Linked DNA regions of Homo sapiens. The protein of the gene in region 1 purifies or fractionates together with the protein of each later gene. This does not show direct contact. Each region holds a gene or a part of one and is shown on either strand. Other genes may lie near its edges.

The links. Proteins that work in one complex are often made in the same cells at the same time.
Region 2: the proteins of COA5 (region 1) and POF1B purify together in Homo sapiens (affinity purification with mass spectrometry; one large-scale study listed by BioGRID and IntAct). This does not show direct contact.

Annotation. Positions count from the first base shown.
Region 1 is NC_000002.12:98,602,164-98,605,512, forward strand, and holds part of COA5 (cytochrome c oxidase assembly factor 5), read right to left. Parts: intron 2,029-3,349; coding exon 1,945-2,028; intron 1-1,944. UniProt on the Homo sapiens protein: Involved in an early step of the mitochondrial complex IV assembly process.
Region 2 is NC_000023.11:85,306,666-85,310,165, forward strand, and holds part of POF1B (protein POF1B), read right to left. Parts: intron 1,552-3,500; coding exon 1,459-1,551; intron 612-1,458; coding exon 498-611; intron 1-497. UniProt on the Homo sapiens protein: Plays a key role in the organization of epithelial monolayers by regulating the actin cytoskeleton. May be involved in ovary development.

The sequences.
Region 1 (3,349 bases):
GCAGATTCAAACTTCCCATCTCACCTTCAATAAGATGCACACTCACTTTAATAGCATACAAAATTACCCACACAATTTAAATGTTTATATTTCTGGGTTTTTTGCCAAGCATGTATAACAAGTTGCATTAACAGCGATATGACTCTACTCATTTTGGAGGACTAACAGTAAAACATGGTCTTGGAGAAAGATTATAAAAAGGTCCCTAAGCTGGTCGGGTGTTAATGGCTCATGCCTGTAATCCCAGCACTCTGGGAGGGAGAGGTGGGTGGATCAGGAGTTTGAGACCAGCCTGGCCAACATGGCGAAACCCCATCTCTACTAAAAATATAAAACTTAGCTGGGCATGGTGGCAGCTGCCTGTAGTCCCAGCTACTCGGGAGGCTGAAGCACGAGAATCACTTGAACCCAGGACGCAGAGGTTGCAGCGAGCCAAGATCACACTACTGCACTCCAGCCCGGGCAACAGAGCGAGACTCCATCTCAAAAAAAAAAAAAAAAAGGGTCCCTAAGGTGCTCTTCTCAGTGTCAAAGTATATGTGAAACTCTGCCTTGTACTGATATTTAGAAATGGTAAGATCATTTTACTTTTTATGTAAGATTGTTAAAAATTTCTGCTGAAAGTAGATAAATTGTAAAAATAAAAAAAAATCTGACTTCGTTCTTTGGAGATCGAAGACTGAGCTTTAGGTAGAGAATTTCAGAGGGTTTACTGCACACGCTTTGAAATTCTTGACAAAGTTAAAGGTTTGCATTTTACATGGGTAACAAATCTATGTGAGAGAAGGCAAGAAAATCCTCCTCTATTCACACTGAATGACAGGAAAAGATGTCACTTAAGAAAGTAAACAGAGCAGGGCCAAATTTAATCTAACTTTACACCCTCCCTGGATCTGATTAGCTGGCAAACATGCTCCAAGTTCTTTGTTTACAACCACTTGCAGGTCGTAAGTATCAGTACCCTCCATTTCTTTTGTTAACAAAAAGGAAGGGATTTGCAGTGTAGTTCCTAAGCAAACAAAAGCATGCTCAAGGCCAGGTGTGGTGGCTCACTCCTGTAATCCCAGCACTTTGGGAAGCCGAGGCAGGCAGATCACCTGAGGTCAGGAGTTCAAGACCAGCCTGGCCAACATGGTGAAATCCCATCTCTACTAAAAAAATACAAAAATTAGCTGGGCACAGTGGCAGGCGCCTGTAATCCCAGCTACTCAGGAGGCTGAGGCAGGAGAATCTCTTGAACCCAGGAGGCAGAGGTTGCAGTGATCTGAGATTGCGCCACTGCACTCCAGCCTGGTGACAAAGTGAGACTCCGTCTCAAACAAAAAACAAAAAACAAAAAAAAAACATCCTCAAGTCCAAGTGCTTTCTTCCTTTAATGGGATGCTCATATTTTTGGTTTTATACATTTCTCCAAGAAAAGGGTCTCAGTTTCCATTCCAAAGATCTCCATACATCTTCCAAATCAAAGAATGTTAGAATGAACCCCAGAGATTTGTAATCTCTTTTTAGGCCCTATTTCTACAATCCATCCCTCCAAAATTCAAACACAGATACTGACATTTTCTCTTAGTCACATAAGGCACAAATGTATACACCTTGGAGCTCCACATTATATGTTTGTATACAATTGCCAACTGATCTGAACTCGAGTGGCCAACATCAACTTTTACCCGTATATACCTGCCGAGACTTCATTCTCACACTTTCAGAAATGCATGAAGTTCAGCAGCTGTAGTTAGCACGGTGACAGAAGAACATAACAATGAGCTGTGGGTTTTTATGAACGCTACCTAACGTTAACTCACTGGAGGAAGAAATATTATCTATGTAATTTTTTCCAAACCATATCACTGCAACTTACCTATAACTATTAAGTCATTCATATATTTAACCTCCCTATAGCTAATTTTTAGCATAGGCTTTTAAAAATCTTTAACCACTTACCACTGATCTTTTACACTCAAAAAATGCGTACTTCAAAGAGTTGCAGTATCCTTCCTTCAAACACTGCCGAGGTGATTTTCCTTCCTATGACAGACACATAAAACAATATAAACACCTTGGAAATTTTCTCACAAAGTACAAAATAATTGTCCTTCTGAAAATAGTCCTTTTTAAAAGTGTTAAAGGAGGAAAATAGAAAGTTATGTAGGAAATAGTTCTTAATTCATTTGGGCTATTGGTGCCTAAAGAATGAAAAAAAAATTGTAAAGTAACTTGGGAACTTTAAGGACACTGTTGAATTCTTGAAAACACTGGTTTCTATTGGATACTTTTCCTTAAACTGTTTATATAAAAATCTAGAAAGGGTTATCTTCATTTCCTTATGGGTGAAATGTGTGAACTGGGTACCCTAAAATCAGAATATTTTTAGTGTTGGCACGAAACACTTCACAAAGATATTAACAAGGCAGGCTGGAATACTACTTAAATAGAAACATGTGGCCCATTCATGCACCAGAAAAAATATAACCCAAAGCTCATCTGCTCTGCATAATCAGGGATTTTCCCTCAAGCAGATTTTGACTCTACAGCCGCATCACTGCAGCCACTCCCCAGAACCTTTATGTTGCAAGTGCCAGGCACGCTCTGCCAGTTTTTCCTATGAAAAGCTACAGGGTACTATGTCTGTGGTATTCCTGTTCCCCAGGAGTCTTGGCCACCTTCCAGTCTGTATGTCTGCCTGGGTCCTAGATATCAAATGTCATCTACCTCAGTGACTCTCAAAAGTGGATAAGAGTAGCAGGTTTCCTTCCTCTCCAAACTCTGCAATTCTGCTGGTGGGATGTGTTGCCCACATGAACGACGTGGAGGCAGACAAAAGAAGACTAACCATATAAAAGGTTATAACTATAGTTTATAAGCTGATGCCTCTTCAAACTGTATCTAAGATGCTACCTTTTTCAAAAGCTTTCAACCTATATTGTCAACTGCCTGGGGTAAAGATCCATCTAGATACACTAAAGCTAAGAGACAGTCATTCGTTATCCACTCCACCCCAAATAACAGACTGCTAGCTGTCTGCTCTTCCTTTTTATCCAGCATATGGCTGGGTGAGATCTCCTAGACGCCCTTGCATCTAGCTGTGGTCCTGTGACTAAGTTCTAGCCACTGGAATGTGTGGGAAACAGGTGTAGAACTTCTGGGTTGGTCCTTAAAGAGGCTTGCCCCTTTCCTCACTTCACTCCATAAGGTTGCCGGGCCTGATGATGTGGAAGCAAACCAGTCTTGGACCATGAATATGAGAGTAACACCCTACTTGCTATATTTTCCTATTTTCACAGCACAGAGTCACAAGATCAACAGTGTCTGCGTTCATGGAAGACTGAGGGAAATGACTAGGCCCTGA
Region 2 (3,500 bases), on another chromosome or scaffold:
CAACTAGTAACTGAGCAAGAATTTGGGACAGCCATAGGAGTAAAGATCAGGAAGAGGGTAATCCTTAGAGACTACTTACAATTTCCTAGGAATTCTCTCTGCTCAGACATCCAGAGAATTCATCTAGAGTTTTTTCAGTCATTTATTTATTGCACAAACATGTATTAAGGTCTACAACAGCTTTTCTCATTGACATGTTAGTACATTAAATAAATGCATGAACCTAGATTTTTAGTATTTCTACAATTCTGGTCACCCAACAAGACAAATAATTGTGTCCCATATGTACTTTATATCTAAAATAGATAAGATTATCTGTTTTTCTGAGAGGGCTTTCAGCCATTAGAAATACCCAAAGCCACTCAATTCTCATATGAACAAATTTTTCCATCATATTTAATTCTGTCTTGATTATATCTCATAACTCCAATGTGCCAGTAATTGTGCATATGAAAAGCTATCAATGTAGATTAACACCAATAAAAGCATCAGTTTACCTGCTGCTGGTGATTATTTGCTCTCACTGATGCCAAGAGTTCTTCGTACTCTTTTAATTGAGTGTCTTTGAATGATAAATCTTTCTCAAGTCTCATCTTGTCATTTTCCAGTGACTAGAAGCATAAATTATTTATTATGATTCAGAATTGCAAAAACTTAACAGTCACATAATACAAAGACTTGCTTACCTTGGAAGATTTAAATAAGCACTTGTTTCATTTGTACTTGCTTAATAAAGCAGAATTCTTAAAAGTTAAGAAAATACGGGATAGGAAATGATTGAAACTTCTAAAACCTTCATTGAAAGAGACATTTTGATGGACTAACTATACATGAAATGAAGCACAACCCTCTGAAATGTTTTAATGTTTTCCTCCAATCTACAAAGAGTCCTCGTTAATCCCAGCGAGTGGTAAATTTTTAAATTAGAGTCTAAATATGTTCATCATAACCCAGAAACAACAAAACTACTCCAAAGTCCTCAAGGCATTATTCAATGTGTGGAAAGCATTCTGAATGTATCTAGCTGATGGCACCAAGAACACCAATTAAAATAGAAAATGGAAAAAAATTAATTTTTTGGAGAAAAATGTTTTCAAGTTATTATATTTGAATGGAAATTCAGAGTATGCTTTATAATTATGAAAAAGGGGGAATTTACCTCCAATGAGTCAGATTATTTTAACTTTGCAGATGACTCTCTGGCTTTAAGCATTAAATTGCCTTAGTGGTAAACTAAATGATAAGTGCACATCCAACATTCTTTCATTTATACTTTGGATACCTCTTTTCTCCTCTCTCAATGCCAATTAACTGTTTGAAGAAAATAATTTAGCTTTGTCTGAATAAGCATAATATTGTGCTATATTAAATTTTAAAAACATATACTGGACATCTTTATTTCTGTATTAGGAAGCTAGTAACTAGAAAGGCTTTGGAAAAAATCAAAATAAATCTTACTGTCATATCATTTTGAAGATGTCCAAGCTCCTCCCGTATGTTGCTAAATGTGGACAGCACTAGTCGGAGTGACTTATCAGACATACCCCTCATCTGCAGGAAGAAAGGATTAATGGTTTAGTTTTATTAACATTTGAAAATAGGCAATATAAGTGAAAGTTTTTTTTTTCCTACTAGCAAACTTATTAATAATTTTACTTTGATATGGCAAATTAGAAAGGTGATATAAGGCATTTTGTCAATAGTGTGTTTAAGTAATCCAAATAATATTCCTGAAGATAGCATAGCTAGTATTTATAACAAATATTTATTATTTTTTCCATGATAAAGTATCATCTTTGTCACAAAGTAGAATTCTATCAGCAAAATTTAATTTTTACATTATTCTTTATTTAAAAGATTAGAAGAGATGAGACAGTCAATAATCAAATAATAAAATGAATCTCCCTAAGTGTATTGCCAACTGCCTGAATTTTGCCTGAGGTGAGAAGAATATAATTATAATTAAGTTTAACTTTAAAGTATAGAGCTATCTAAATATTTTTGGTTTTTTTTGTTTTGTTTTTGTTTTTTTACCAGAGTCTCACTCTGTCGCCTAGGCTGGAGTGTAGTGGCATGATCTCAGTTCACTGCAATCTCTGCCCCCTGGGTTCAAGCAATTCTTCCACCTCAGCCTCCCAAGTAGCTGGGACTACAGGTATGCACCAACACACCTGGTGAATTTTTGTATTTTGAGTAGAGAACGGATTTCACTGTGTTGGCCAGGCTGGTCTCGAACTCCTGACCTCAAGTGATCCACCAGCCTTGGCCTCCTAAAGTGCTGGGATTACAGGTGTGAGCCACTGCACCTGGCTTATCTCAAATTTTAAAGAGAGGGGAAACTCTTTTACTAGATTATTCTTATTTCTTTAAAGAAAAATGGTTTAAAAAACAGACAACTTCAGCTTCTGGGAAGATGGAGTAAAAATACTTTCCACAACCAATCAGACGTTGTTTAAGGTTTAACTTTGTAACTTCAGCCTCTGATTGGTCACTTTCTGCAACCAATCCGACTGATAACGGGCCACTACTTCATTTACATAGAGTGTACACCAAGTTACCAATGGGAAACCTCTAGAGGACATTTAAACCACATAAAATTATATAACTGTGCACTTGAGCCAATTGCTCAGCCCACTCCCACCCTGTGGAGTGTGCTTTCATTTTCAATAAATCTCTACTTTTGTTGCTTCACAAAAAAAAAAAAGAAAGAAAAAAGAAAAAAAATACTTTTCCCTAGCCTTCCTGTTAATTGCAGCTAAAAACCCTGGACATTATATATAAAACAAATATAAAAAGACCCAAATTGGTGAAAAGAGAAATGATTGGTTAGGAATCTTGGGACCTGAGAAATGACACAGCAGTGAGTTCCTGGATTTTCTTTTTGCTTCATATATTAGATCAGTGTTGGGCAAGCTGGTGATCTAGTTACATCAATGGACAACAAAAGTCCTGAGAAAAGCCTTCTCTCTCTAACCAAAGGACCATGAAAGGGTCAGCCTAGCAGGACAGAAAACTTTTAGATAGTAACCACTCTATCTTAGCCAAACACCACAGAAGAAATTGCAACTCTACTTCCACACGGACCACCAAAGGCCAAGAAGAGAGCTTAGACTGCCCCCTTGTCAGGCTCTAGGGAGGTACACAACACCATTCACTGGGATGGTGTCAGAAAAGACAGAGTGAAGAATGGTGCTTTCATTCCTACTGGCCAAAAATGAAATTCCATGCACTGTGATGTCAGTTGAGACTGTGAAGGGAGCTTGGGCTTTCACCCTATCGCATCAAGAGAAGCTGAGTGGGGGAACCTCAACTTCCACCACCAGCTGGCAGTAATAGGTAGTGCACACACTTTCTCTGATATTTGAATATTTGAATGAGACCCAGAGAGTCACAACATAAAAATGGCCAGGTCTCCCATCCAAGTACTAGCCAGGCTCAATCCTGCTTAGCTTCTGAGATCAAACAAGATCAGACATGTTCAGGGTCAATTGAAAATCACT